Homo sapiens: one gene and its partners. The protein of the gene in region 3 purifies or fractionates together with the protein of the main gene of each other region. This does not show direct contact. Each region holds a gene or a part of one and is shown on either strand. Other genes may lie near its edges.

Region 1 (4,112 bases), on a different chromosome or scaffold from region 3:
TTGCAGAACTTCTTATGACTTCTGGAGTGGTCCTCTGTGAAGGGGTCAAATGGTTGTCATTTCATAGGTAAAACGACTACATTGAAAATGGCATTTGTTTTTCCATCTCATACTTGCTCCACACTTACTTGGGTCACTATGTTAGCAATTTCAGGTTTAATTCTGGAAAGAGTTGACTGCCATATAGAGTTGTCTCCTAACTCTTAGGAGGCTAATGTTGGTCTGCTTAAAGGTTAATTTAAAATATGGGATCCATTTTTGCCTGTGAGAAGCATGTTGCATAGTGGAAACAGTACAGGTTCTCTAAAAAGTGAAAGACCCTGGTTTAAATCCAGCGGCGCCATTTGGAATTGGTGTTACCCAGGGTTTTCTTTTACTATTTCTACACCTTAGTTTTTAATGTTCTACGGGGGAAACCATTCACTTACATTTACACAACGTTATTGAGTATTTACCATATGGCAGGCACTGAGATGAGATTCTAGGAACTAAGGTGTGAATAAAACAGATGAAAATTATTTTCCTCATGGAGTTTATATTCTCATGGGGGTGGGCAGACAGTTTTTAAAAATGGAGTTCACGTTGTGATTTGTTAGATAGTGATAAGTACTATCTCAAAACAGCAAAGAAAATGCTAGGGATGGGTGTGGAGATGGATTTTAATTTTTTTTTAAAGTGATAAGGCATCCCTTAGAAGAAATAGCTTGAAGACTTGTTTTAATGGTCACCAAAATACTTTATAAACAGTAAATTCTCAATAAGTGGTGGTTCTAAATTCTTTATTGTTATGAAACTAGATTATTTAAGAGTGTTTCTGGTAAGGAAACTATTCCGATTTTGTGAAATAGACTTCCAGGTATGAAAAAGAGTTTTCCCATCTAAGTAAACTAAACTGACGTTCCAGGGACTAAAAGTAACCTTCAGAATGATATTGGCTTTTGTTAGGTTTTGAAAAAGCATTGTGTTACATAGATGTTAATACTCTCATACTTGGTCCACTTCACACATGTATCTTAAATCTGAGTCTCCTGCATGTTTAGTTTCTGTCTCTGATCTGTGGGATGTTTATAGTGAAGGACTGTTCATGTGGGCAACTTTGATGTGTACTAACCAGAAATGGTTGAGTTGTAGGTACTGAACACACTCATTCTTACCTATCATCTTTTTTGTCTCTTCTGCACTTGAACTTGTACCTTAGGAAACATAACTTAAGACTCTTGATACAAATACCTTTTTTTTAGTCATTTTTCTTCCCTAGATATGAAGGTGCAAAAGAACTGGAAAGTATTGCCCTTCCCTTTTACTGTATATGACATACCCTTTCATTTAAAAAATACTCTGACAAAATACAGTGCACTAGGCACTGGGTATTAAGATGAACAAAAACAAACAGGGTTCATTCATGTCTTCTTGGAGTTTAGAATCTAAGTTAGACTGATATATTTGAATATTTATCAAGATAGAAGATTTTATTCCATTAAATATCATTAGTTGTTTTCCTCATATTCTAATTTCAAGTAATGAAGAATAGTTTAAGAAGTTTATAAATCCTAAGCGCTAATATAATCTTTTAATGTTAGTGAGCAAATGTCATATAGGCTTCCTGTTAGAGGTCCTTGGAAGGAAAGGTAGACAAGGGACGGACGTGTCTAAGTGGCCTGGGAGTGTAGGGAGACAGAAAGCTGTGCGAAAGGCCGGACAAAGGGAGAAGAGTTCTGGATTTGAGAGTGTAGGAGTTTGCATTTTATGATCAAGAGAGTAGTTATTTTTTTACTACCCTTCACTTCTTCCATGTGCAGCATTTCCATTAATAATGACTCTTAGGGAGCCACACTGAAAGGAAGAGAATTGTGAAGGAAGAAAAGGGAGAGACTACTTAACACAGTCATTTAAGAGAAGTGAAAATACCTTGTTACAGTCTTATTCTTTGGATAAAGTATATGACCACCTTATGTAAAAGTGGGATGACTTGCATTACTTTTGTCTACCGAATGCCAGTTCTCTTGCTACCTTTGCTAACTCTTCTGGCCAAGTTTCCATTCATCTTTATTTCTCCATTTCCATAGTTACTTTAAAAAATATTTTGAGACATCTGTGGGCAGCTTGATACTCTTCTTGGTGTTCTCTATTCAGATATCAACAAAATAGTATTTTATTGACCATAGGCTGGTTTGGTAGTGTAGGTCTGTGTTGATATCTCTGAATAATAAAGTGATAAAGTTCTTAATACTGTAAGATGACGACATTTTCTCATAGTTCTCAATATGTTTGTTTTCTCTGTTCTTGTGTGCACTTCTCTTTAATGTTTTTGGGAGGGCTCTAGTGTGACTTGCTTAAATTTGAATCAGAAAAACTTTTTTTTTTAATCTTTATAGTATTTATATGTCCCTCTTCTCTATTCTTTTAACCCTTTTATAGCGGTTACGACTTTGGCTACTTAATCAAAATCCTAACCAACTCTAACTTGCCTGAAGAAGAACTTGACTTCTTTGAGATCCTTCGATTGTTTTTTCCTGTCATTTATGATGTGAAGTACCTCATGAAGAGCTGCAAAAATCTCAAAGTAAGGCTTCGGATGGCATTATCTACAGCAGCACACTGTTCAGACCAAGTGACTGTCATGCGAGCCTAGGCTGGGATGTTGTTTTAAACCATATTTTAAAGTATTACAGTGAATGCAATTATATTATCTGGTCATGTGATTTTTTTTCTTGCATACATAATTTGTAGGGAATCCTTTTTTCAGAGCTTCAGTATGTCTTGGCAGAAGGCAGAATTTTCAACACATTTCAGGCTTAGGTCCGGTTCTTGTCACTGCTTGCCAGATTGAAAATCACAAACCAAAACACAAATCTGAGGACATTGAGGCTCTCATATGCACGCCATTGTGAGTTGTTACTTTCTCCCAAGACGCATAGAATCTGTTCTTACAAGGTGGAATCTAAGGTGGCCAGCGATATGCAGATGTATTTAGTAGTGTGGCAAAAGTTTTTCTTTCCTTTTGGCTTATCTTGGCTAGAAATTATTTTGTCAGTTCTAGTGATAGGATAATGCTCCTAGGATTAAACTATATAGCTAAAAGATTTTTCTGTGGCCAAAAGATGTCAGCTTGTTACAGTTAAGTACTATGGGAAATGTGTAGGTCCTGCCTAGATAGTAGTAACATTTTGACGCTGCATAACATGTATTTTTAAATTCTAAACATTAATTCTTTTTTTGTTTTTGAGACGGAGCCTTGCTCTTGTCGCCCAGGCTGGAGTGCAGTGGCGTGGTCTCGGCTCACTGCAACCTCCGCCTCCCGGGTTCAAGTGATTCTCCTGCCTCAGCCTCCTGTGTAGCTGGAATTAACAGGTGTCCATCACCACACCCAGCTAAATTTCGTATTTTTAGTAGAGTCGGGGTTTTACCGTGTTGGTCACGCTGGTCTTAACAGATAACTGAAGATGAGAAGCTTTCTTTTGGCCAGTGTTTACCTTTAATACATGATATGGTCAGCATATGACTAGAGAAATTTTCAAGAAAGATTATTTTATGTTTGTAGCAGTAGACTTCTGTGTAATTTGAGGGGACTTCCAGGAAGTGAACTTGCAGTAGGGTATCCCTTGCTTGAGAAATTCAGCCCACCCTGTGAAAGCACTGCATGCTGAGGCCTACATGTTTTCATCTGACTTTTTTTTTAATTGACATGTCTGTATAATGATAGTTTTCAGGAACAGGGAACCAAATTATTGCTCATCATGTGGTTGTTACTGGGAAGTTTCTAAGTACAGATATTCTGAATGTGTCCTGAGTAAGCTGCTGTGTTAAAATTCAGGTTAACGACAAAGGTGCTTTTTGACCTATAGTCAGCCATGCTGTTCTATTCAGTTCTAGTTCTGTTCTCCTAAGCAGCTGCTAACGATACCTAATCCTCGTGCTATTTTTAGCGCAGAAGCAACTGCTGTGCAAAGCCTTGTTTCAAGCTGTGATGCACAGAAGGGCCATTTTGCCGGTGGAGGCCTTAACAAGTTAGAGAAGAATTTTTGTTTTGTTGTTGGTGTTTCTTTCCTTCACGCTCTACTTATTCTCCCCTCCCTTTACTCTCCTTGCCTGTCCTCCCACTTTCTTTCCTT
Region 2 (3,500 bases), on a different chromosome or scaffold from region 3:
AAGCAGGTTCAAGAAACAAACTCCTGTTTGTTTGCCTCTTGATGGTTCAGAAACATTCAGCTGCTTTCACCTCTAGGACAAATGCTTAAGAATTTACTCTCATCAACATTGGAACTTTACGAAAACAGGATTCCTGGTTCATCAGAAGCCTGTATTAATGAAAAATGCATTTTGTTCTTTAGTGCTTAAAAAAAAAAGAAACTCATCTACTTTTTTGCGGAACTTTTTTTGGGATAGCCATTCCTCCTATGGATAGTCATCAGCAAGACACCTAAAAGACATGTTTTCCCTAGTTCTTATCAAAAATTCATCTCACAGAAAAAGTCATTCAAGAAAGCAAAACTTTGCTTTAAGTAGATAAAGTACTGTTTATATGCATTAAACCAAGCAATCCACTCAGGGTTTTAACGGTGTAAAAACTAAATCACAGTACAGCTGAACAGTGAATGGATGGGATGGTTCTGATGAGGTATTATTTTGACATTTTGGTCTCAGAAGGTGTTTCCCCAGTATCCAATGTCTTCAACAACCGGAAAAGACCAGCAGCTTCTCGTATCCTACTGAATTCAATACAGAATGCCTGCACTTCTATAAACAAATCCTGTACATTAATAATTTTGTTACGGATCAAGGATTGGAGAAACACACACACAAGACGCACCAACCGATTCTGAAAAAGGAAAAAAAAAAATGTTAGTCTGCTCATTTTCCTGGCAGCCATTTATAAAATTTACAAAAATTTATATTACCTGCATATATTTATCCTTAATCTGTTCACAAGTAGAGATGCAATTTGATATATAAAGGTGAATAAATTCAGGAGGTAGATCAACAGCTGTAGTTAGTCTGTTTCGTAAAAGAAAATTTGGCCCATTAATTTCATTTGCTAACATTGAGAAACACTGTTAACCATAAAATACAAAATTTGCTTTGGTCATCTGGTGGAATTTTCTGACATATCCAATTCCCTAGTTTTAAATATACTTGGGCAAATTAACCTAAGAGCCATACCTACTTACTCATAAATAACACTGTTTAAAATGTCTCTACTTACATTTACATATCGCAATTATTTTTTTGAGCCCTGTCCCTGAGTATTCTTGGTTAAATCCTAAGTCATGGTCTGTTATTGGAATTTAGAGTCATAATAAAGGCCAAAGCCAGTATTTTCCAAAGGATTACATGGAATGTTTTAATGAGAAAAACGAGTGGGGTGGGAACAGGAATTCCGTACTCAAAGTATGAATTTCCAAAAGAAGATTAATATATGCTGCCTTTTCTAAACTTAACAGACCTCAAAACTTTTTTCAATAAGGCATGAGGATGTAGTGCTCCAAGGACACTGTCATGAGCTGCTGCAGTCTCTTGAGATTTGTGCGTCGCCAAAAAACGTGTTTCACGTTTAAGGATGATGCACTATGATAGGTATCGGGGGAAAACAAACAGGACCTTGTCCTTGAATTCCAAGATACTGAGCAGATAGAATCACATTGATAAAAAGATGTAAGTGATTCTGCATCTTGGACTCAGGGCCAAATGTCTGGTAGAGACAAGAACTGCTATAAGAATATGGTGAAAGGGAAGTGAACACTCAGCGTGGTCAATCCGGAGGACCTGCACAGAACTGGGCCACTGAAAAGAGTGAGTCTTCACTCAGTAGGGGAAAGACTGGAACAAAGAGGGGGGAGATGTGCAGCAGCACGTTTTCAACAAGCAGCTAGCCGGTTTTGCCAGTGACCACGGTTAAAGTTAAAAATTAATTTGGAAACCTCACATTTCCTCCCTCTGCTACCGCTAAAAGAACGCACTCTCCTTCTATGCACGTACTTCCACTCCCTCAGCTTCCAGCTGGGCTTTTTTTCCCCCAATAGTTGATGAAAAAAGGACACATTCTGTAGTTCAATTTCACATAGATTTTTTCAAAAAGCCCCAACTTACAAACAGGTGTTCAAAAACTATGCTCTCCAGTACTGAAGTTTAGTTGCTTGGCACTCAGAATGGATTTCCCCATACAGGAGGACCATATAATTTATCATCCAAAACAGGATACCACGTGAAAGGGAGCTCAGGATGCAAAGCCTCCACCAGGACTCTCAGGCACACCTGAACCTCTGGCCACCCTGCACATAAACAACTTAAGCCCTCCAGCCCATCTAATTCACAATTTACCTAAAAGATATTTGTAAGGAAAATACTCTAAAATGCAAACACTGTACAGCACACATCAAGAAGGGAAGATGTTCTGTTTTCCTGACAGTCAAGGATGGCAGGGTCAGGAGCCTGGGGGTCAGAAAGGCTGGGAGAAGAGCACGAGGAAGCTAGGACAGCATTCCTAGGATTCTCAGCTCTTAAGGTCCATATTTTTCCACACTTACAGCTGTTAGTCACTAAGAAAAAATAGTATCTATATTTGTATAGGGATAAAGAAGACAGGACTATGTATAGGGAAATAAATTTCAGCAATTGGCTGGCACACTGGCTCATGCCTGTAATCCTTGCACTTGGGAGGCTGAGGTGGGCAGATCACTTGAGGTCAGAAGTTCGAGACCCGCCTGACCAACATGGCGAAACCCCGTCTCTACTAAAAATACAAAAATTAGTCGGGTGTGGTAGCACACACCTGTAATGCCAGCTACTAGGGCGGCTAAGGCAGGAGAATTGCTTGAACCCAGCGGGTGGAGGTTGCAGTGAGCTGAGATCACGCCACTGCACTCTAGCCTGGGCAACAGAGTGAGACTCCCTCTCAAAAAAATAAATAAATAAAATAAATTTCAGCAATTAAATTTCATTTATGCTTCTACTAACACTAAATATGTTTGAAATCCTACCCTCAGTTCTTATTAACGCATGCTAAATTTACATGTAGTGAATGCTAAGGCTTACATTATTTCTTTAATAGTTAATCTTACGCCAATAATATCAAGACAAAAATCTGTTACAATTTTTCTTTCCTGGCCATCTAATCTGTATCTATCCCCACACATTTGATCAAATCTAGAAACTTACCGATTTACAACTTCCATTGAATGTAAAGACATGTCCATATTGACCAGGACAGAGAAATACTCAGTGATCTGGCTTGACTGCATTAATTTCAGCAACATTTCTATAGCGACTAAAGGGTTGTTTTCCACAAGGTCAGGAAGTTTGGCTGGGGTGAGGCCAATATGGTAGACAAGTTTGGGGTCTTTTTCCAACTCACCAAGTAGCTAAATACACCAGATTTTTAAAGAGAGAGAGAGGGAGAGAGAAAGGGTGTTGAGTCAATTTTTTTTCCCATGTATATGAAATAAGCATTTTATACAAAAAGCTACAAAACTATCTGCATTGAACCAACTTCATAAATTTCTTCCTTCAAACCCATGATGTCTTGACATTTCTAAATTTACATTTTAATTTTGAACAAACTAAAATGCAAACACATCTAAGACAGTTTATAAATATGCTAGTGATTCCTATTCCTGGGCATCAAACCAGACTCCACACTGTCTGGTCAGATA
Region 3 (4,112 bases):
TGAAATAGTCAGCAAATGAACAGAATCAAGACAGTGATCTTAACAAAGAAATTGAGGCTTTACCAGAAACAGGAAAATATGCACCAAGGTTTTTTTTTTTTTTTTTTGAGACGGAGTCTAGCTCTGTTGCCCAAGCTGGAGTGCAGGGGCACGATCTCAGCTCACTGCAACCTCTGCCTCCCGGGTTCAAGCAATTCTCTTGCCTCAGCCTCCCAAGTAGCTGGGGTTACAGGCACCCGCCACCACACCCAGCTAATTTTTGTATTTTTAGTAGAGACGGGGTTTCACTGTGTTGGCCAGGCTGGTCTAGAACCACTGAACTTGTGATCCACCTGCCTCGGCCTCCCAAAGTGCTGGGATTACAAGCGTGAGCCACTGTGCCCAGCCAACATGCACCAAGTTTTTAAGTTCAAACAGTGAATGTCTGGCACCCCACTGACAGCTTTGGAACAGTCAGCTTTCCTTTCCCAGGATTTCTAACAAGGTCAGCTTAAGGACTTGAGTATCTTGATACCTGTTATTTTTTCAGGCTGGAACATTATTAGCATATATTTCCCACAAATCTAAGTAAAATAAAAGCACAGCTACTCTCATAGATGCCAAAAGGAGTTGCCTTAAAAAATTCACATGAACATGTCCTCATTCTGAAACTTTGGTAATGTATTAACCTTCTTAGGAAACAATTTTGCTTCACTTGAGGCAGGTAGTATGGCCCAGCTTCCTCTTTGGTAAGTTATCATATTAAATAATGTACACACACCCAGAAAGAGAAGAGAATGAATGACCTGTAGTCATTATTTGCATTAACTCAGTTTGGGGAATTCACTCCAGACCATAGCACTCAAGGCTATAAAAGGAGCAATGGTTTTAGAAACAGGATTTTGCTATTGAATTCAAGGGATACCTTTAAGTAGATGATAGCATCTGTTCCATATCCTGATAAAGAGTAGAGATTCAGATCTCCTTGAAAGTACTTTGCATACAGACGAGAAATTGGCAAGCCGTAACCAAAACCAGCCTAGAGAAGAGAGACGTTATCAGGTAAAGAAGTGTATGTGATCACTGAAATACAAACAAGCAGGAAATTACTGTCCTCACTGATACTAATGTCCTAGAACCTAAATAAATATCTTCTACTTCCAATCAGACATCCCTTGTTTCACCATTTTTAGCTTGCTTTATCATTCATTCTTATATCCTTCATGTCTAATTTTACTTAATTGATGAACTTGTCTAAATAATCCCTTGCAATCCTTGCTCTACATTTAGAACTAGGTGGCTGAGATTAATTTAGCCATATAATTGTTCTTACCAAAGGAGCATTCCGGGAATTATCCATCACAGGCGTTGGTGCAGTGGAGTATGTATAACTAAAGAGGCGGTCAATAATTCTCAGGGGAACACCACCTCCTCTGTCTGAAATCTAAAACAAACAAACAAGTCATCAAAGCCACACATTAAAAACAATGTGCATTTGTCTAAATAAAAATGGCTTTCCTTCATTTAAAAATCACCTGGCATATATGACTGTTATCTATTGCAAAAAGCAGACAGCTTTATTACTATTGACCCTATTTAATTCTCTCAAGAGACACCCAAAAGGAAAACAGAGAATGGTTACCTTAATGGTAAGGTCTTCTTTTCCCAAGACAACAATAACCTCTATTGGTGTAAGGGAAGGCTGATTTTCCTGGTGTTCAACTGTTGCCCGCATTGCATTCTAAAACAAAGCAAACCATAAGGAATTCAATGGCAGAGGAATGAGGGACAATAAATGTTTTTTTTTTTATGTTTAAAATAAAAGTAGCACAGAGGGTAATTCAAAGTTCCTATTTTTTTAAGTTAGTAGTAAAACAGCTTTGTAAATAGCCATTTATGAATGGGTCATGTAGGATGTATAATGAAAAATATTCATTTACTATGTAATATAGCTCCTGGGAGTAATGTCTAATGGAAACCAATTCTGCTAGCTGTCAAGTTCTTATTTGTAAGCTTAATTTAAATGTAGAAATTGGTTTTTATAGTCCATTTCCTAGCTCTCCCTTTTCTATCTTTCTATTACGTTTTACATCCAAGCACCAAAGACTACTATATAACAAATGAACAGTGAAATCATTGAACCAATTTATTGGCTTTCATAAAACTTGCTGTGAAAAGGTTGTTACTATTTAAAAGGACAGTCAATAATTCTAAATTGAATTTCAATTTGCATTTGATTATCATCTAACTTTTACCAATGATGGCAGAATAACTCTATGAGTTGTATCATTCAACTTAAAAATAAATCAAATCAATGAAAAAGTATCCTTTGTCCTTTAACACAGAACAAACTAAAAGATGTTTTCCGTCTATTGGCTGAATCTCATACAGATACAGTCTTGGTTTTCTTAACCCATTTTCCTTTCTCACCACCTGTCTACTTTCTGCTTTCTGGTTTTTAAATAATATTAAGTTCTAGTCATTAGCTGTAGTGAAATAAAGTAGATCAGATGTTTGTAGTACAGTCAGTACCTCACAGCAGTAACATTAGAATAAGTTAGGAAACAGGAAGTTCTGGAAAGAGTTATGTCAGAATTAGAGGCAGATTTGTCTTTTTTAGGCTTCCTTCTCTCCAATTCAGGGGACTCTTGGGAAGCATCAAAAAGCTTAAGGTGTTTTTCTATTTTTTGGTTTAAGTTCAATTTGATCTTAATTTAACTTAATCTTAGGACGCATGAAAGGATTTGATTCTTAGCACCTGGCTGCCTCAGACCAGTAACATCTGTATCCTTTGAGAGCTTGTTAGAAATGCACATTCTCAGACCTGAAGAATCAAAATCTCTGGGGTAGAGCCCAAGAATCTGTGTTTTAACATGCCCTGCAGGCGATTCTAATGCATATTACAGTTTGAGAAGCACAACTCTACAGGCCTGCTAGGCAAAGTGTGCATTGTGGACCAGCAGCATCACCCCTTAGCTTATTCAAAATTGAGAATCTCAGGCCCCACTCTAGACTTCCTGAATCAAAATTTTCACTTTAACTAAGTCCCCAGGTGATTCATATGCACTTTAAAGTAGATGATTGAAGGAACTACTGACTGTGCTCTTAGCACATTCTGGACTCTGAATGGAGCCATACCACCTACAGGAATTCTGGACCTGAACTGCTGAGTTAGGAGTAGGACCAGCCTGTGGGGGTGGAGGTAACAAGGCCTCATTCACTGAAACATTCACCCCATGACCTCTCTTAATGAATGAATAAATGACTAGTTCTTTAATGGGCACCTGAAAAAATAATAAGAACTTCCTCTTGGCTGTAAAGCATTGATACATCATGAATTGTATGATGCATTCTCAAATATGTGTTGATGCTACAATGAGCTACATGTACTTTGTCAAACATTGACTGTATAGTTTCTTTCTCTTAGGAGGACTAGAAGCATTCTTGGGAAAAGATATTGAGGCTTCTGTTTTGTGGCGAATAATAAAGGAGATAAAAATATAACTGTTAAACCTTTTTAAAAGGTAAAATTTCAATTATTGTGAAGTATCATACCTTAAATAGTTCAAAGAGCATATGATGGAGGTGAGAAGGAACATACACGATGTGAATTGGTTGGTCTGGAAATTTTCCTAGAAAAATAAAATTCATTAAGAATTTGTAAACAAATACTTCACTAAAATAAACCACCACATTCATGTGATTAACATTTTAGACTTCAAGAGGGTTGGCATATTCTCTACCTTCCCCATCCCCAAATCCTGCCCTAGAAACTTACCACTTAAACAGTAAATATTACTGGCTTATATTCAAAATGTTGTTGTAGTTGCTACATAATGCTCTTTTGTTAATTGTTTTTTTTTTGTAGAGATAGGGTCTTACTATGTTGTCCAGGCTAGTCTTAAACTCCTGGCCTCAAGCGATCCTCCAGCCTTAGCCTCCCAAACTGCTGGGATGATAGGCATGAACCACCTTGCTCCATATGATTAATTTTTGTATTTCTCCACAAATGTGTGAAGTTGGGTAAGTGTGGAAGAACAGTGCTATAAATTAGATTTTGTGGATTATTTCTATTTTCAACATTTTTGTACTGCACAATTTCAGAGTCAAAATTTTATGTATTTTAAGACAGA
Region 4 (4,112 bases), on a different chromosome or scaffold from region 3:
CGAGCAGATAAATGTTGTCATAATGGGGGGGTGATGATTCTGTATCAAACTGGAGAGAACATGCTTGGCCTAAAGGTATGTAAATTATTAAAAACCTTGGGCTGTAAAATATCAATATAAAAAACATTTGTGGCCAGGCGCAGTGGCTCACGCCCGTAATCCCAGCATTTTGTAAGGCCGAGGAGGGTGGGTCACCTGAGGCCAGGAGTTCAAGACCAGCCTGGCCAACATGGTGAAACCCCATCTCTACTAAAAATACAAAAAATTAGCTGGGCATTGTGGTGGGCGCCTGTAATCCCAGCTACCTGGGAGGCTGAGACAGGAGAATCGCTTGAACCTGGGAGATGGAGGTTGCTGTGAGCCGAGATTGCACCATTGCACTCCAGCCTGGGCAACAAGAGTAAAACTCCGTCTCAAAAAAAAAAAAAAAAATTGTATGTCTATGCACTAGCAAAGAACATGCAGAAAATGGAATTAAGAAAACAATTGCATTGGCCGGATGCGGTGGCTCACGCCTGTAATCCCAGCACTTTGGGAGGCCAAGGCGTGTGGATTATGAGGTCAGGAGATCAAGACCATCCTGGTTAACACGGTGAAACCCCGTCTCTACTAAAAATATAAAAAACTAGCCGGGCGTGGTGGCGGGCACCTGTATTCCCAGCTACTCGGGAGGCTGAGGCAGGAGAATGGCGTGAACCCGGGAGGCGGAGCTTGCAGTGATCTGAGATGGAGCCACTGCACTCCAGCTTGGGCGACAGAGTGAGACTCTGTCAAAAAAACAAAACAAAACAAAACAAAAAACAGACAGGATCTCACTCTGTCACCTAGGTTGGAGTGCAGTCTGCTATCATAGCTTACTACAGCCTCAAACTCCTGGGCTTGGGTGATCCTCCCACTTGACACAGAAAGTTAATTTAATTGCCCCAAATCCACAGTAAATGTCAGAAACAGAATCTCAAGTTAGGCACTCAAGCTGCAGAATGTATGCACTTCTCTGTCTGCTCAACCTTGACAATGATAAGTGATCAGAGGCTTAGAGGATAAAAAAGGAAAGAAAAAACAAAAAAAATCAACAAACAGGTCAGCAATCAAATGTTTTGTATCATGATAAAATATGCATATTTCTATTTTTCTCTATATACTGTAAATTTATGTACTTTTTAAACTTGTGATTTGTTATAATGTTAGATTTACAGATTTATATAGATAGTATGAACAGTTTCCATATGTAGTCTTCACCCAGTTTCTCCAAAGGTTAAGACTTTACGTAACCATGGCACAAAGGCAAAAAAGAAATTAACATAGAGACCTTACATTTATTTGTCAACAAAAAGGAATGAAGTTCCAATGCACAAACATTGAAAACATTATACTAAGTGAAAGAAGCTATATGACTCAGAAACATTTTATTTAGTGAAAAGAAAGAAAGAAGCTAGCCAAAAAGGACCTCATATTGTATGATTCTGTTCATATGGAATGTCCAAAATAGGCAAATCCATAGAGACAGAAAGTAGATTAGTAGTTGCCAGGGGCTAGGAGAGCTGGAGGGAAATGGGAATTGACAGCTAATGGGTATGGAGCGTCTTTTTGGAGTAATGAAAATGTTCAACCTTGTGAATATACTAAAAGCCATGAATTGTAAACTTTATTAATTTATTGTGACAGAGTCTGGCTCTGTCACCCAGGCTGGAGTGCAGTAGCGTGATCTTGGCTCACTGCAACCTCTACCTCCTGGGCTTAAGCCGTCCTCCCACCTCAGTCTCCCAAAAAGCTAGGACTACAGATGCACCACCACACTCAGCTAATTTTTGTTTTTTTTTTTGTTTTTTGTTTTTTGTTTTTTGAGACGGAGTTTTGCTCTTGTTGCCCAGGCTGGCGTGCAATGGCGCGATCTCGGCTCACTGCAACCTCTGACTCCTAGGTTCAAGTGATTCTCCTGCCTCAGCCTCCTGAGTAGCTGGGATTACAGGCGCCCACCACCATGCCTGGCTAATTTTTTGTAGTTTTTCAGTAGAGACAGGGTTTCACCATGTTGGTCAGGCTGATCTCGAACTCCTGACCTCATGATCCACCTGCCTTGGCCTCCCAAAGTGCTGGGATTACAGGCGTGAGCCACCGTGCCCCACAATTTTTGTGTTTTTTACAGAGACAGGATTTCACCATGTTGTACAGGCTGGTCTCGATCTCCTGGGCTCAAGAAATCTGCCCACCTTGGGCTCCCAAAGTACTGGGATTACAGGCCTGAGCTACTGCACCTGGCCTGTAAACTTTTAAAATGATGAATTCTGGCCAGGCTCGGTGGCTCACATCAGTAATCCCAGCACTTTGGGAGGCTGAGACAGGTGGCTCACGAGGTCAGGAGTTCAAACCAGCCTGACCAACATGGTGAAGTCTCTACTAAAAATACAAAAAAAATTAGCCGGGTGTGGTGGCAGGTGCCTGTAATCCTAGCTACTCAGGAGGCTGAGGCAGAAGAATCACTTGAACCTGGGAGGCGGAGGCTGCAGTGAGCCAAGATCGTACCACTGCACTCCAGCCTGGGCGACAGAGTGAGACTCCGTCTCAAAAAAATAATAATAATAAAATAAAATGATGACTTCTGTGGTATATAAACTATAAATCAATTATAAAACAAAAAACGCTGGGCTGGCCAAAGATATCTGCAAGCTGGCTGGCTAGTTTTGGAACCCCTGAGCTAGATGCTGATAATAATAAAAATATTGTTATATCTAACACTTATTGAGCACTTAGTATGCACCACATACTGTTCTCTAAGCACTTTTTCCATATTCATTCATTTAATCCTCATAACAGCCTAGGAGGTAGGTTACTACTATTTTTTTTTTTTTTGAGATGGAGTTTCACTCTTGTTGCCCAGGCTGGAGTGCAATGGCACGATCTCGGCTCACTGCAACCTCCGCCTCCCAGGTTCAAGCGATTCTCCTGCCTCAGTCTCCCTAGTAGCTGGGATTATAGGCATGTGCCACCACGCCCAGCTAATTTTGTATTTTTAGTAGAGACTGGGTTTCTCCATGTTGGTCAGGCTGGTCTCGAACTCCCGACCTCAGGTGATCTGCCCGCCTCTGCCTCCCAAAGTGCTGGGATTACAGGCGTGAGCCACTGCAACGGGCCAGTTACTACTATTATTCAAATTTTACAGCTGAGAAAAGAATAGTGCTGAGAAGTTAAGTATTTGCTCAAGGTCTCAGTGTAAGTGTGTGCTAGGATTAGGATTCAATCCCAGTCAGTCCATGCTCTTACCCACTATGTTCTACTGCCTACTGCTGTGTGGTGCCTGGGTGTCCTGGAAGTCTGGAATAGTGAGGCAGATGGGGAAGAACTATAAAGAATCTCCTGAAGAGCAAAGGCTGCAACTACACTAAGGTTTCTCAATAGGGACTATTGATCTTTATAGCTGGGTAATTCTTTGCTGTGGGAAGCTGTCCTGCGCACTGTAGGATGTTTAGCGGCATTCCTGGCTTTTACCCACTAGACGTCATCATCAAACCTCCTCCCCTAGTTGTGACAAGTAAAAATGTCTGCAGACATTGCCAAATGTCACCTCAGAAAAAAATCACCCCCAGTTGAAAACCACTGAACCAGACCTTGAAGGATAAGATAGGCCTCCAGCCAGAAGGGAGAGCTGGGCAAAGGTATAGAAGCAGGGAATAGGGCCGGGCGCAGTGGCTCACACCTGTAATCCCAGCACTTTGAGGCTGAGGTGGGTGGATCATCTGAGGTCAGGAGTTCAAGACCAGCTTGGCCAACATGGTGAAACCCCATCTCTACTAAAAATACAAAAAAATTAGGCAGGCGTGGTGGCATGTGCCTGTACTCCCAGCTACTTGGGAGGCTGAGGCAGGAGAACGGTTTGAACCCAGGAGGTGGAGGTTGCAGTGAGCCAAGATTACACCACTGCCCTCCAGCTTGGGTGACAGAGCTAGACTCCATCTTGAAAAAAAAAAAAAAAAAAGCAGGGAATAAATATGGTACATGGGAGAACATGATGAAGTTGACCACCTCCTAAAAGTTGAAGGAGGATGAGATGGAGAGGTAGACAAGCTAGATAGCTGGAACTAACAATAGTGCTGAATGAAGGCCGGGTGTGCTGG
Region 5 (4,112 bases), on a different chromosome or scaffold from region 3:
GGGCCGGGCACGGTGGCTCACACCTGTAATCCCAGCACTTTGGGAGGCCAAGGTGGGCGGATGACTTGAGGCCAGGAGTTCGAGACCAGCCTGGTCAACATGGCAAAACCCTATCTCTACTAAAAATACAAAAATTAGCTGGGTGTGGTGGTGCACACCTGTAATCCCAGCTACACAGGAGGCTGAGGCACAAGAATCGCTTGAACCCAGGAAGCAGAGGCTGTAGCCAAAAGAGATGGTGCCCCTGTACTCCTGCCTGGGCAGCAGAGTGAGATTGTCTTAAACTAAAAATTTTAAAAAAATTAAAAAGTAGAGAGGGGCCGCGCACAGTGGCTCACGCCTGTAATCCCAACACTTTGGGAGGTGGAGGCAAGAGAATCACTTGAGGCCAGGAGTTTGAGACCAGCCTGGGCAACATAGTGAGACCTCACCTCTACTAAAAATGCAAAAATTAGCTACGTGTGGTGGTGCACACCTATAGTCCCCAGCTACTCAGGAGGCCATAGCGAGAGGATCACTTGAGCCCAGAAGGTCAAGGTTACAATGAGCTATGATCGCACCACTGCACTCCAGCCTGGGTGACAGAGTAAGACCCCGTCTCAATAAAAAAAAAAAGCAGAGAGGATGTGATGCACCCCCATGTATCCTTCACTGAGACTTAATAATCAACAGCTTGAATCTTTTAGGTGAATTCTCAATATACCTCCCATCTTCTCTAAGAACTGCAAACTCCTTCCCATGGCATCTGGCCCCCTCTCTCCCTGGACTCTTTCTTTTGCTTATTCTCTTGGAAAACTCCAAGTCCTTCTTCAAGTCTCAATCCAGACTTTGTGCTCTATGAAGTCTTTGGGTCTACAATGGAGCCAATAATGGCTCTGCTCCCTCAGTAACGATCCCAGCACAGCAAAGCCCACTCTGCATTCTAATGACTGGTTGGCATGTGGGCCTTGCCATTGGACTGTGGGGACTTTGCAGACAAGAACTCAGCCTCTGTGGAACTCTACCTCTCCAATGAATCACAACTCTTTCTGATGACAGAATTTCTTTTGATTCCTTGCCAAATGTAAATTTTAAAAACCAAACGTAAGACAAACATCAATATAGGAGAAGAGGGATCTGGTATCCTAGGAATTCAGACAAGGATGCCCAAGCCAAGCAACTGGCCACTTGCTTACATTTCTAGCGGGCCATCCACTTAATTGCTTTGGCGTTTTCATCCAAACACGAAGGCAGTGCCTAAAAGCACTCCTAACCTACTCCCCAGGGTGGTCTCCAGGATCATTTAACTCAGGAACCAAGTAAGAGTAATGGACTTCACACCCCTTGAACGTTGCTGCTATGGAAACAGTATTGTTGCCAGACGCAATATGCTTCCTCCCACCTGGCACCACAACTCTTACCTGCTCCCCTCCTGCTAAGGGTGAGTGCACACCCCCTCCCGCACCCTCCTGCCCTACCCACTCACACAGCTGTCCATCCCCTTTCCCAGAAGGAGGTGCACACATTTTAACTGGACTTATATAGCATCACAAAAGAGACTGATCCTGAGCAACCTCCACAGTTGTAAGAGAGCGATCATCTCCAGTTTCCAAAGGCCACTCAAGGAGGCATCCAAATCACTTAGCTCTTAGCCTGCAAAACTGACAGGAAAGCTGAGAAGACGGAGCCTCAAGTCCATGTGGCCCAGCCAGCACCTCCCCAGAGTGAGACTGGCTCATCCCTGAGGGCAGCACAAACCCCCTAGAGGTGAACCTCCTTCAGTAGCCCTCCCCCGCCCTCTGAGTCAGGTCGTCTGCAGTGCACAGCTGGCGGGATCCTTGGAAGATACTCACGGCATCCCGGCTGGTGGACTTCATGATCTCACTTAGGCCAATGCACACACCCTGCCTCTCATCGCTCTTCTGAGACCTCAGGCCTTCCTCAAGGATGGGGATGATCTCGGGGAGGATTTTCTCCCCTAACTTCCGCACAAGATCTCCCAATGTTCTCGCTGCAATCTGTCAACAGAGACCAATCCAGGAAGTAAAGTCCCTGCAAAGCCCAGGGCACCCAGAGGAGGACTCCAGAATGAGGGCCCTGAAACCTCCCAGGCTTTATCTGAATCACTGACTTAACTTCCCCAAATGCTCTTACCCCTAAAGAGCCCCCAAATACTCTCTGTAGTGCTTGCAAAACACTACCAAAAAATTATCTGTTTCACACACACCTACACAACCTAACATTAAGAGCCAGCAGCACCTTACACATGTACAAAAAATTCATCATCTGCTGCACAGTCAAGGGCCAATTTCCCTGGATGACTGAAGCCTTAACACTGTGCTATGGCTGAGCAGGAGCCGAATCTGGAACAAAGCTTTAAGGAAAAAAAAACATCTACTTTCTGAGACCTCATGCAAACCCTTCTTTAGAGCCAAATACACAATTTGCTTGCCAAGGATGGGGGGTTGGAAGTAGACCAAAGGAGATGGGCAGAAATGATCACCAGCCCATCTGGGCACCTCCTCCAGGCCCACTGATCTGTCTGCCCCTGCCAGCGCGCCAGCCTGATCTCATGCCGCACTGCTCCTCCCTGCCTCCTCACTCCAGCCACACTGGCCTTGCTCAGCCCCTACTGGTGCTATGTTCCTGCCCACCACGGGACCTCTGCATATCCTGTCTTTGTATCTGAAACATTATTTATTCCCTCTGTCTGGAATGGTCTTTCGCCACCTCCTCACCTGGTTAGTGCTTACTTATCTTTCATCTTCCAGCATCATTTCTTCTGAGAAGTGTTCACTAACACAGGCCCATCCCTCCCCAGCAGGTCAAATGCAGCTATTATAAGCATTTGCAGTGCCATGCAGCACTGGCCACAGTCGCATTTTACATCTCTTTGTGTGGTTATTTGATTAATATCCATCTCCTCGACTAGACTACCTCTCATGAGGATAAGGAATGAAGCTGCCTTTCTTCTCCATTGTGTCCCCAGGTGCTAGGCCCCTGCTTAGTGCACAGGAGATGCTAATAAATATTTGCAGAGGCCAGGCGTGGTGGCTCAAGCCTGTAATCCCAGCACTTTGGGAGGCCGAGACGGGCGCATCACGAGGTCAGGAGATCGAGACCGTCCTGGCTAACGTGCTGAAACCCCGTCTCTACTAAAAATATAAAAAAATGGCCAGGTGTGGTGGTGGATGCCTGTAGTCCCAGCTACTCGGGAGGCTGAGGCAGGAGAATGGCATGAACCTAGGAGGCGGAGCTTGCAGTGAGCTGAGATCACGCCACTGCACTTCAGCCTGGGCGACAGAGCAAGACTCCACCTCAAAAAAATAAATAAAATAAAATTAATCAAAAAATATTTGCAGAATGACTAAGTAAAGAACACAATGTCCCTCTGTTAGGCAGGGTGGATGGGTACTTTCCCAGGCTCTGCAGACCCAGCCTTCTAGGCTCTGAAAGGAGGCACTGGGGCTGCTGGTCCAAAACAAGGCCCAGGAAACTCACCGTTCTCTTATCTGCACACGTGCTGGCCAGGAAACCCAGCAGGAGCCCAAAGAGAGTGGGTAGGATCTCACGCAAGGTGCGGGGGGTATTGGAGACAACAATCTTCCAGACATGCAGGGACGCCTGCCGCACCACCAGCTGGGTGTCTGAGCGGCCCATGTACAGCCCTGCCAACACCCGGTTCCGCCGCTCTACCCCCAGGGCAGTGATGATCGCCTGCAGCCAGTAGAAGGGGACAGAGAGTAGTGAAGCCTCTATGGCATGGGCATCAGGGCACACCCTACCATCAGCAGGGGCAGGAAAGCCACTGCAGGCACCTTGTTGGACTGGGCAGTTCCAAAGTTATCATCCTCAGAGGCAGTTTCTGTGGTCATCTTCCCAGTGACTCCTGAGATGTGAAACAGGAGATCCCCAAGGAGCTGAACAGAGCTGAACCTGAGAAGGAGGCCAACAACACAGTCACACAGCTGCAAGGAGTGGGCTCGGCACAACTGAGCACTGCACAGAAGATGGAAAGAAGTGCACCCAAAATACTCATGACGGTCATCTTGGAATGGGAAGAGTCAGGTGGTTTACATTTCTTTACACTCGCCCACATATTTTCCAAGTTTTCTACTAATGAACATACATTA
Region 6 (4,112 bases), on a different chromosome or scaffold from region 3:
TAGACTTACTTGTTTAAAGGCCACTACTGCTCTAAATGGAAATCTGGAGCACCACAAAATGCTCTTATCCATCAGGCTGGTGGCGCTGTGTCTGGTACACGTATATTTTTGTTTTGGTTGAAATGTGTTAGAGGACGGTCTTCGGCAACTAAAGGGATACCACAAAGAAACATACTAACTCAATTCTAACATGCTCTGCCACTGCTGGGTAACGTTACGGCCATTCATCATTCACTAATAAATTTCCTTGTTACCAAAAAGGTTTATGATGCCCTGCTCTGATGTAAACATCATACTAAAAAAAAAGGTCATTTAGTGACCAAAGCACAAAGTGCCAGAGGAGGAGATACTGCAAAAATGAGATGAGATAGTCTGATGGCTTGCACCTATCCCAGAGATTCTGTATTCCAACACAGATTTCCAGATGCCTCCCCAACTCCTGACAAGGACTATAATCTTAGTTTGAAATGTCTCAAGCACCTGCTCCCATAGGACGTAAAAGGCCATGCCAGGGAACTCTTGACATTTAAGATTCTTGGTCATGGTGGGGCCCCATGGGGGTGCCCAGGGCATGAGTCTCACCAACGCTCTTCATGCAGCTCCCAATCTTTGTGCTGACTCGCAGGAACTTGCTAAGGTCCCATCGAGGAATCTTCACCACACAATAATCCACGCTGGGTTCAAAGGCTGCTGTACCCCCTGTCACAGAGTTCCTGGGGTCCAGCAGGTGGGATGCCAGAAGGACAGTGAAGGAAGCATAAAGGGTGAGCTTCCGGATAGCTCTTTCCATTCCCACAAATCCAGGCCAATGTCCTTTTCATATTCCCTGTCCCATCAATATTTTCCTCAGCCCCCGACCCACTTCCCCACTGTGATATCTCCCTCATCCTCGTACCTGAGCTCAGGCAAAGGGATGCCCAATGCTAGCTTGGCTGCCACATAAGCCAGTGGATAACCTGTGGCCTTACTGGCCAGGGCAGAGCTGCGAGAGAGCCTGGCATTCACTTCAATGATGTAATACTGCAAAGAAGGAGAATAAAGTCACTGGCCTAGAAGACCCTGTCTAGGAGAGGTCTCAGAAAGGAGAGAAAAGTAACCTAGTAAAGAAGATTCCAGCTTGTACTCCAGGGACTGTAAGCCCAAAAGACCTCAACCTCAAGGGCCAAAAATTATACAAGAAGAGGGGGTAACAACTAGACTATCAGTTCCAGGGCCTAGAGCTTACCTGCTCAGACTCAGGGTTCAAGGCATACTGCACATTGCACTCCCCAACAATTCCCAGGTGCTGGGTCACCTTGATAGCTGTCTGCCTCAGGAGCTGATACTCCCTGTCATTCAGTGTCTGGCTAGGGGCCACCACTATGGACTCACCAGTGTGGATGCCCAGTGGGTCCAAGTTCTCCATGTTACACACCTGTGAAGGGGGGTGCCATGGAGGTCACTGCCAAGCAGAGTCAGGAGAGGCAGAAGGCTGCACCCCAGGGTCCTGTTACCTCTGGGGCTGCACCTAACCTGGGTCTGAGGGACATACAACTCTCAAAGACCTTGGCCTGGGCCTCTGCTCTTCCAAAAGCTCATCCTGCCTGACACGACGCCCACCCTTCCCCCATTCACTCACCGTGACACAGTTGCCATAGGCGTCTCTCACCACCTCGTACTCAATCTCCTTCCATCCCTTCAGAGACTTGTCTACTAGCACTTGGCTGGTATGGGCAAAAGCTGGGGCCACGAGAGCAGAGAGCTCCTCCCTGTTAGAGGCAAAGCCAGAGCCCAGGCCACCCAGGGCAAAGGCTGCACGCACTAGCACAGGGTACCCCAGCCGTTCAGCGGCTGCCTGGGCCTGCAATGAGTGGAAGAGATGAACAAACAGGTTATTTCCTACTGTCCAAGGTGTGCCTGTCCCACATAAAAAAAGATATAAAGAAAATAACATGGCTGGGCATAGTGGCTCACGCCTGTAACCCCAGCAATTTGGGAGGCCGAGGGTCGGGGGGGTGGATCACCTGAGGTCAGGAGTTCGAGATCAGCCTGACCAACATGGAGAAACCCCGTCTCTACTAAAAATACAAAATTAGCTGGGCATGGTGGCGCATGCCAGTAATCCCAGCTACTCAGGAAGCTGAGGCAGGAGAGTCGCTTGAATCTGGGAGGTGGAGGTTATGATGAGCCGAGATCACGCCACTGTACTCCAGCCTGCGCAACAAGAGCGAAACTCCGTCTCAAAAAAAAAAAAAAAAAAAAGAAAATAACACTACCAAAAAAAACACCACCATTCTTCCTTTACCCAAACACCCCTCCAACCTGTTCAAGAGAATTTGCTGCCTCGCTCGGGGCCACATGCTCTCCGATCTCTGCCATTCTGGCAGCAAAGGCCCGTCGATCCTCGGTCAGCTCAATGGTCTCCACTGGTGTGCCCAGGACCCGGACCCCATACCGAGCCAGCACCCCGGCCTTGGTCAGCTCCACACCACAGTTCAGAGCAGTCTGGCCCCCAAAAGTCAGTAACACACCATCGGGGCGTTCATTACGTATCACCTGAGGATGGAGAGGGGAGTTACAGGCATCAGAACCTTGTGGGTAGAGAGGCAATCAAAGTTTAATAACCCACAGTGACCACTGGGCCCCCCTGCCCAGTCCTCTTTTCATTCCAGCCTTGCCCCAGTCATACCTGGGTTACATAATGAGGTGTTATGGGAAGAAAATAGACCTTGTCGGCCAGCCCCTGGGAGGTCTGCACTGTGGCAATATTGGGGTTGATCAGCAACGTCTGGATGTTTTCCTCCTTCAGGGCCTTAATTGCCTAAAAGGACAAGAATGGCATCTCAGCCTCTGCTGAAGAAGCAAAATTGCAAACAGCCTTAGAGTAGCATTCTCCTCTTCTTTCCCTCCCTGTACTCTTGGCCCCTAATAATTGACTTCTATTTCTTACTACATCTTTCTCTACATTCCCCAAATCTGGTTCATTTCCTCCCTGCAACCTTAGCCCTTCTCCTTAAGACCCTTTCCATTCTTGAGGGTCACACGCCCAGAAGGGTGGGGAGGAACATGCCTCACCTGAGAGCCCGAGTAGTCAAATTCTCCAGCTTGGCCAATGGAGAGGCCCCCTGAGCCCAGGATCAGAACCTTTCGTGGTGGTGGAAGTCCAGAGCCGGGAGTGGGAATCCCAGGGGGACAGAGGCGCTCAGTCAGCCGCTCTCTAACTGTGGAAGCAAAGAAGGTCGTAGAATGTTAGAGCTGAGCTGGACCCAAGAGGTCAACTGGATTAGCTCCCTCGCTTTCAGAAGAGTCCAGAGCAAATTATGCACCTCAGGAGGAGCAGAGGGAGGACCAGAACCCAGGACCCTGGAGTTCCTTTCAACAGAAGCTTAAACGGTATCTTGGGTTGGTTGCCACCCATCCCCAATACCCTTAACCTCCTAGACATCTAGGAGTTGCCCAGGGCATGTCCACCTTATGCCCATCCTGGAGCCAACCCTGTTCTTAGGTCCACAACCCAGTTCTACTCAGGATCTTACCTGTCTGGCCCCCAGGGTTCCCAGCTGTGGCCTCTTTCACAGTTTCCAGAAAGATATCGAAAAGCAGTTCCATATCTGAAGGGCCAGCTTGGTGCTCTGGGTGAAACTGGACACTATTGAAGAGATTGCATCATGAAAACCATCATGGTCCCTGGCATGACACTGGCAGCCTCGAGGTGGGTAGTGGGACAGGGGACTCGGATCCACTGCCGTGCTTTACTTTTCCATCATCAAGGCCCACAGGGCTTCAAATTTTCACAGACCCAGTCAACCAGGCTCACCTGAAGAAAGGCAAGCTGTTGTGCACAATGCCTTCATTGGAACCATCATTGGCGTTGGTGAAGAGAGGAGCCCAGTCTGCTGGCAGTGAGTCTGTCTCCACAGCAAACCCATGGTTCTGGGATGTCAGAAAGCAGCGCCCAGAGCCCACCAACAAGCAGGGCTGGTTATGGCCTCGGTTCCCATATCTGGAGGTAGAAGCATGCCGAGTCACAGGCCCTGCTCACCCTCTCTTCACTACTGAACCTACCCCAGCTCTCACCGATCTCCTGTTCTCAGTAGCCTCACTCCTGTTTCCTTTTTGTTTTTTTTTTTTTT
Region 7 (4,112 bases), on a different chromosome or scaffold from region 3:
TAAACAATTGCCTTTAGGTTTGAACTAAGCAGAAAAGAAATGCACCACGTTTTCAAAACTGAAAATCATCAGTTAACTGAAAGCACAGACACATTCCAATACAGAATGTTAATCATTCAAATCTGATTGGTGGAGACTACAAGCTACACTCATCAAAATACAGCTCCACTGATATATCAAGAAAAGAAAACTTTTCCAAAGAAAAAAGGGATGTTAAAAGACCTAAGGAAATCAACAATCACAGTCACAAAATACCAATGATGCCCTTGTGAAGGAAAGTTTTAAATCTTAAGAAGGATGCCACTTCGAAGAAAAACAATTCAGGCCCACTAATGTCACTATACAGCTAGGTTAACATACCTCACATATGATTTCTATCATCTGAACAAGTATACTTGACTTACCAAAACCTCAAATGGTTTATTCACTAAACCATATTCCCTCCACTGGACAAGAGGAGCTGGAGAAATGGGAAAGCACACACTTCGCAGCCCAAAGAATAAGCCATTTGTAACAAGCAATGTTACAGAATTGAGCATCCTGCCCAGTAGTGTAGAAATAAAGGAACAGAAATTCAAATCAATAATATCAGCATGGCCAGCACGGTGGCTCAGGCTTGTAATCCCAGCACTTTGGGAGGCCAGGGCAGGAGGATCACCTGGGGTCAGGAGTTTGAGACCAGCCTGGCCAACATGGTGAAATCCCATCTCTACTAAAAATATAAAAGTTAGGCTGGGCGCGGTGACTCACACCTATAATCTCAGCTCTTTGGGAGGCCAAGGCAGGCAGATCACGAGGTGGGGAGTTTGAGAGCATTCCGACCAACATGGTGAAACCCCCATCTCTACTAAAAATACAAAAATTAGCTGGGCGTGGTGGTGCGCACCTATAATCCCAGCTACTCAGGAGGCTGAGGCGGGAGAATCACTTGAACCCAGGAAGCAGAGATTGCAGTGACCCGAGATCATGCCACTGCACTCCAGCCTAGGCAACAGAGCAAGACTGCCTCAAAAAACAAACAAACAAACAAAAAACTGAAAGAAGAAAAAACAATATCAGCATGCTTTAAGGAAGCTAGGCAAAGCAGAATATTGCCACTGCTGATGAGTATTTTGTTTTCACATCTAAGAGGAGGAGTTTTTATGCATAGAAAAGACTGAGATTTACTCTAGTTTTAAAATATTAATACTTAATTTATTAAAGTTACAAATTCAAAAAGCCTAGATTTTACTCAAATTTTTACACCGAACTTAGACAACTTATTCTACTTGGAGGTCTAATTTTAAAGGCCTGTGATGAATGTCTAAACTCATTTCAAAGTTCACCTTCAACATAACATCTTCAAACATAAAATGTTAACTACTTAAAAAATTTTACCAAGACTACACTTTCAGGGATCATTTCTACAGTTTGTTACTGGAGAAGTTTCTCTGAAAGTGTAGAGTACCAAACACTTTTTTTAAATTAAAAAAAAAAAAAATTTATCAAGTGAGAACTATTGCAACCCCCCCACCAAACCCCAACAATATATTCAATTTTAAGTATAATTGCTAGACTTAAAAAGACAAAATTTTTGTATTTTAACATGTGTCAAGAAAAAAAAATTTCCTGAGAATAACTTACATACCTAAAAAATTAAACTTATAGTGACTCTTAGGTACTCTCTAATGTCCACAAAATAAAATAACTGCAATAAGGTTTCAATTTAAATTCACAAGTATAAATCAATATTCAGTCAATTATACATTTTAAATTGAAATCATAAGACTAATATAAGTGCCGGGCATGGTGGCTCACACCTGTAATCCCAGCACTTTGGGAGGTCAAGGTGGGAGGATGGCTTGAGCTCAAGAGTTCAAGACTAGCCTGGGCAACATGACGAAACCTCATCTCTACAAAAAATACAAAAGTTAGCCAGGCGTGGTGGCGCATGCCTATAGTCCCAGCTACTTGGGAGGCTGAGGTGGGAGGATCGCTTGAGCCTGGGAAGTCAAGGATGCAGTGAGCAGTGTTCATGCCACTGCACTCCAGCCTGGGTGACAGAGTGAGACCCTGTCTGGAAAAAAAAAAAAAAAGACCAATATATTACTCTAAATTCTAATATTAAAAACACTTACTCACGCCTGTAATCCCAGCAATTTGGGCAGTCAAGGCAGGAGGCTTGCTTGAGTCCAGGAGTTTGAGACCAGCCCGGGATACATGGCAAAACCCTGTCTCTACAGAAAAACAGAAAAACTGGCCAGGTGTGGTGGCATGTACTTGTAGTCCCAGCTACTTGGGAGGTTGGGGTGGGAGGATCACTTGAATCCGGGAGGTCGAGGCTGCGGTGAGCCAAGATCATGCCCCTGTACTCCAGCCTGGGCAACAGAGTGAAAGCCTGCCTCAAAAAAATTAATTAAATTTAAAAAAGAAAAAAAACCACTTTAAATATCAAACATAGGTCACTACCACATCAACTCCTTGTTCTGAAAACTGGTAATTGAAAATAATGAATTAAGCTTTTAGCATTTAACATGGCTTTCTGGGAAGACTAACAGTCAATATGGGAAAGCTATTCTTTTTTGTTGTTGTTTCTGAGACAGGGTCTCACTTTGTAGCCCAGGCTAGAGTGCGGTGCTGTGATCACGGCTCACTGTAGCTTCGACTTCCTGGGCTCCAGTGACCTCCTACCTCAGCCTCCCAAGTAGCTGGGACTACAGGCACGCAGCAGCACACCAACTAAGTTTTTTCAATCTTTTCGTAGAGACAGGCTCTCATGTTGCCCAGGCTGCTCTTGAACTCCTGGGCTCAAGCGATCTGCCTACCTTGGCCTCCCAAAGTGCTGGGATTACAGGCATGAGTCACTGTACCCAGCCCAGGAGAGCTACTCTTTAAAGAAGAATATTCACTAACAAAGGTAGAAACTACAATAGAACTAGGTAAAAATCATTTTGTAACCCTCAATAATACAACTGATTGAGGAAAGAATCAACAACAGTGGATATTTACGAAATGCCAATTACTCCATAAATTACCTCTAACTGAAAATGGAAAAAGATGTTCCTGTCAGCACCTCAAATTGATCAAATTTAGCATCACTAATACTGGATAACCTGACATTATGTACTTTATACAGAAAATAAAGTATATAACATCACCTACAAAGTTTCTCAAAAATATGTTGAACCTATATCTAATCAAGCCTGTAGAAATAAGTTAGAGTTTAAGAAAATACAGGAGATAAAGCTGGGTGCAGTGGCTTACACCTGTAATCCCAGCACTTTGAGAGACCAAGCTGGGAGGATTCCTTCAGCCCAAGAGTTTGAGACCAGCCTGGGCAATATATTGGGACCCTGTGCCTACAAATAAATTTTTAAAATATAGCCATAGCTGGGACTACAGGCACATGCCACCACACCCAGCTAACTTTCTGTATTTTTTGTAGAGACAGGGTTTTACCATGGTGCCCAGGCTGGACTTGAACTCCTAGGTTCAAGCAATCCACCCACCTCGGCCTCCCAAAGTGCTAGGATTTATAGGTATGAACCACCATGCCTGGCGGGAAATTGGCTTTTTTTTTTTTTTTTTGGTGACAGGGTCTCACTCAGTCACCCAGGTTGGAGTGCAGTGGTGTTTATCTTGGCTCACTGCAACCTCTGCCTCCCAGGCTCAAATGATCCTCCCACCTCACCCTCCCTTGTAGGTGGGACTACAGGCATGCGCCACCACTAATTTTTTACATTTTTGGTAGAGACAGGGTTTCACCATGTTACCTACGCTGGTCTCTAACTCCTGAACTCAACTGATCCTCCCACCTCAGACTCCCAAAGTGCTGGGATTACAGGCGTGAGGCGCCATGCCTGGCTGGCAGGAAATTTTTAATATATTAAAACATGAATTGTCTAAACTATGACAATGGCATCATGGTTACATAGGTGAATGTCCCTATTTTTAAGAAACGCATGTTGAAATATTTAGAGATGAAGTGTTATGATGTTTATAACCTATTTTGAAATGATTCAACATTAAAAGTCATAGCTAGAGCCAGGTGTGTTGGCTCACATCGGCACTTTGGGAGGCCGAGGCGGGCAGATCACTTAAGCTCAGGAGTTCAAGACCAGCCGGGCCAACAT

The links.
Region 1: the proteins of PDK4 (region 3) and CNOT7 purify together in Homo sapiens (affinity purification with mass spectrometry; one large-scale study listed by BioGRID and IntAct). This does not show direct contact.
Region 2: the proteins of PDK4 (region 3) and CNOT11 purify together in Homo sapiens (affinity purification with mass spectrometry; one large-scale study listed by BioGRID and IntAct). This does not show direct contact.
Region 4: the proteins of PDK4 (region 3) and RPAP1 purify together in Homo sapiens (affinity purification with mass spectrometry; one large-scale study listed by BioGRID and IntAct). This does not show direct contact.
Region 5: the proteins of PDK4 (region 3) and GCN1 purify together in Homo sapiens (affinity purification with mass spectrometry; one large-scale study listed by BioGRID and IntAct). This does not show direct contact.
Region 6: the proteins of PDK4 (region 3) and CAD purify together in Homo sapiens (affinity purification with mass spectrometry; one large-scale study listed by BioGRID and IntAct). This does not show direct contact.
Region 7: the proteins of PDK4 (region 3) and CNOT10 purify together in Homo sapiens (affinity purification with mass spectrometry; one large-scale study listed by BioGRID and IntAct). This does not show direct contact.

What each region holds. Positions count from the first base shown.
Region 1 is NC_000008.11:17,233,167-17,237,278, reverse strand, and holds part of CNOT7 (CCR4-NOT transcription complex subunit 7), read left to right. Parts: coding exon 1-67; intron 68-2,418; coding exon 2,419-2,563; intron 2,564-4,112. UniProt on the Homo sapiens protein: Has 3'-5' poly(A) exoribonuclease activity for synthetic poly(A) RNA substrate. Its function seems to be partially redundant with that of CNOT8.
Region 2 is NC_000002.12:101,266,386-101,269,885, reverse strand, and holds part of CNOT11 (CCR4-NOT transcription complex subunit 11), read right to left. Parts: exon of another isoform or gene 3,210-3,500; coding exon 3,007-3,209; intron 847-3,006; coding exon 750-846; intron 671-749; coding exon 473-670; 3' UTR 1-472. UniProt on the Homo sapiens protein: Component of the CCR4-NOT complex which is one of the major cellular mRNA deadenylases and is linked to various cellular processes including bulk mRNA degradation, miRNA-mediated repression, translational repression during translational initiation and general transcription regulation.
Region 3 is NC_000007.14:95,586,106-95,590,217, forward strand, and holds part of PDK4 (pyruvate dehydrogenase kinase, isozyme 4), read right to left. Parts: intron 3,612-4,112; coding exon 3,535-3,611; intron 1,721-3,534; coding exon 1,622-1,720; intron 1,424-1,621; coding exon 1,313-1,423; intron 1,019-1,312; coding exon 905-1,018; intron 1-904. UniProt on the Homo sapiens protein: Kinase that plays a key role in regulation of glucose and fatty acid metabolism and homeostasis via phosphorylation of the pyruvate dehydrogenase subunits PDHA1 and PDHA2.
Region 4 is NC_000015.10:41,537,469-41,541,580, forward strand, and holds part of RPAP1 (RNA polymerase II-associated protein 1), read right to left. Parts: intron 1-4,112. UniProt on the Homo sapiens protein: Forms an interface between the RNA polymerase II enzyme and chaperone/scaffolding protein, suggesting that it is required to connect RNA polymerase II to regulators of protein complex formation.
Region 5 is NC_000012.12:120,139,027-120,143,138, forward strand, and holds part of GCN1 (stalled ribosome sensor GCN1), read right to left. Parts: intron 3,916-4,112; coding exon 3,798-3,915; intron 3,697-3,797; coding exon 3,481-3,696; intron 1,998-3,480; coding exon 1,833-1,997; intron 1-1,832. UniProt on the Homo sapiens protein: Ribosome collision sensor that plays a key role in the RNF14-RNF25 translation quality control pathway, a pathway that takes place when a ribosome has stalled during translation, and which promotes ubiquitination and degradation of translation factors on stalled ribosomes.
Region 6 is NC_000002.12:27,223,433-27,227,544, reverse strand, and holds part of CAD (multifunctional protein CAD), read right to left. Parts: intron 3,983-4,112; coding exon 3,797-3,982; intron 3,629-3,796; coding exon 3,516-3,628; intron 3,201-3,515; coding exon 3,055-3,200; intron 2,801-3,054; coding exon 2,669-2,800; intron 2,536-2,668; coding exon 2,302-2,535; intron 1,841-2,301; coding exon 1,619-1,840; intron 1,415-1,618; coding exon 1,226-1,414; intron 1,021-1,225; coding exon 896-1,020; intron 714-895; coding exon 583-713; intron 1-582. UniProt on the Homo sapiens protein: Multifunctional protein that encodes the first 3 enzymatic activities of the de novo pyrimidine pathway: carbamoylphosphate synthetase (CPSase; EC 6.3.5.5), aspartate transcarbamylase (ATCase; EC 2.1.3.2) and dihydroorotase (DHOase; EC 3.5.2.3).
Region 7 is NC_000003.12:32,691,507-32,695,618, reverse strand, and holds part of CNOT10 (CCR4-NOT transcription complex subunit 10), read right to left. Parts: intron 1,456-4,112; exon of another isoform or gene 1,379-1,455; intron 79-1,378; exon of another isoform or gene 1-78. UniProt on the Homo sapiens protein: Component of the CCR4-NOT complex which is one of the major cellular mRNA deadenylases and is linked to various cellular processes including bulk mRNA degradation, miRNA-mediated repression, translational repression during translational initiation and general transcription regulation.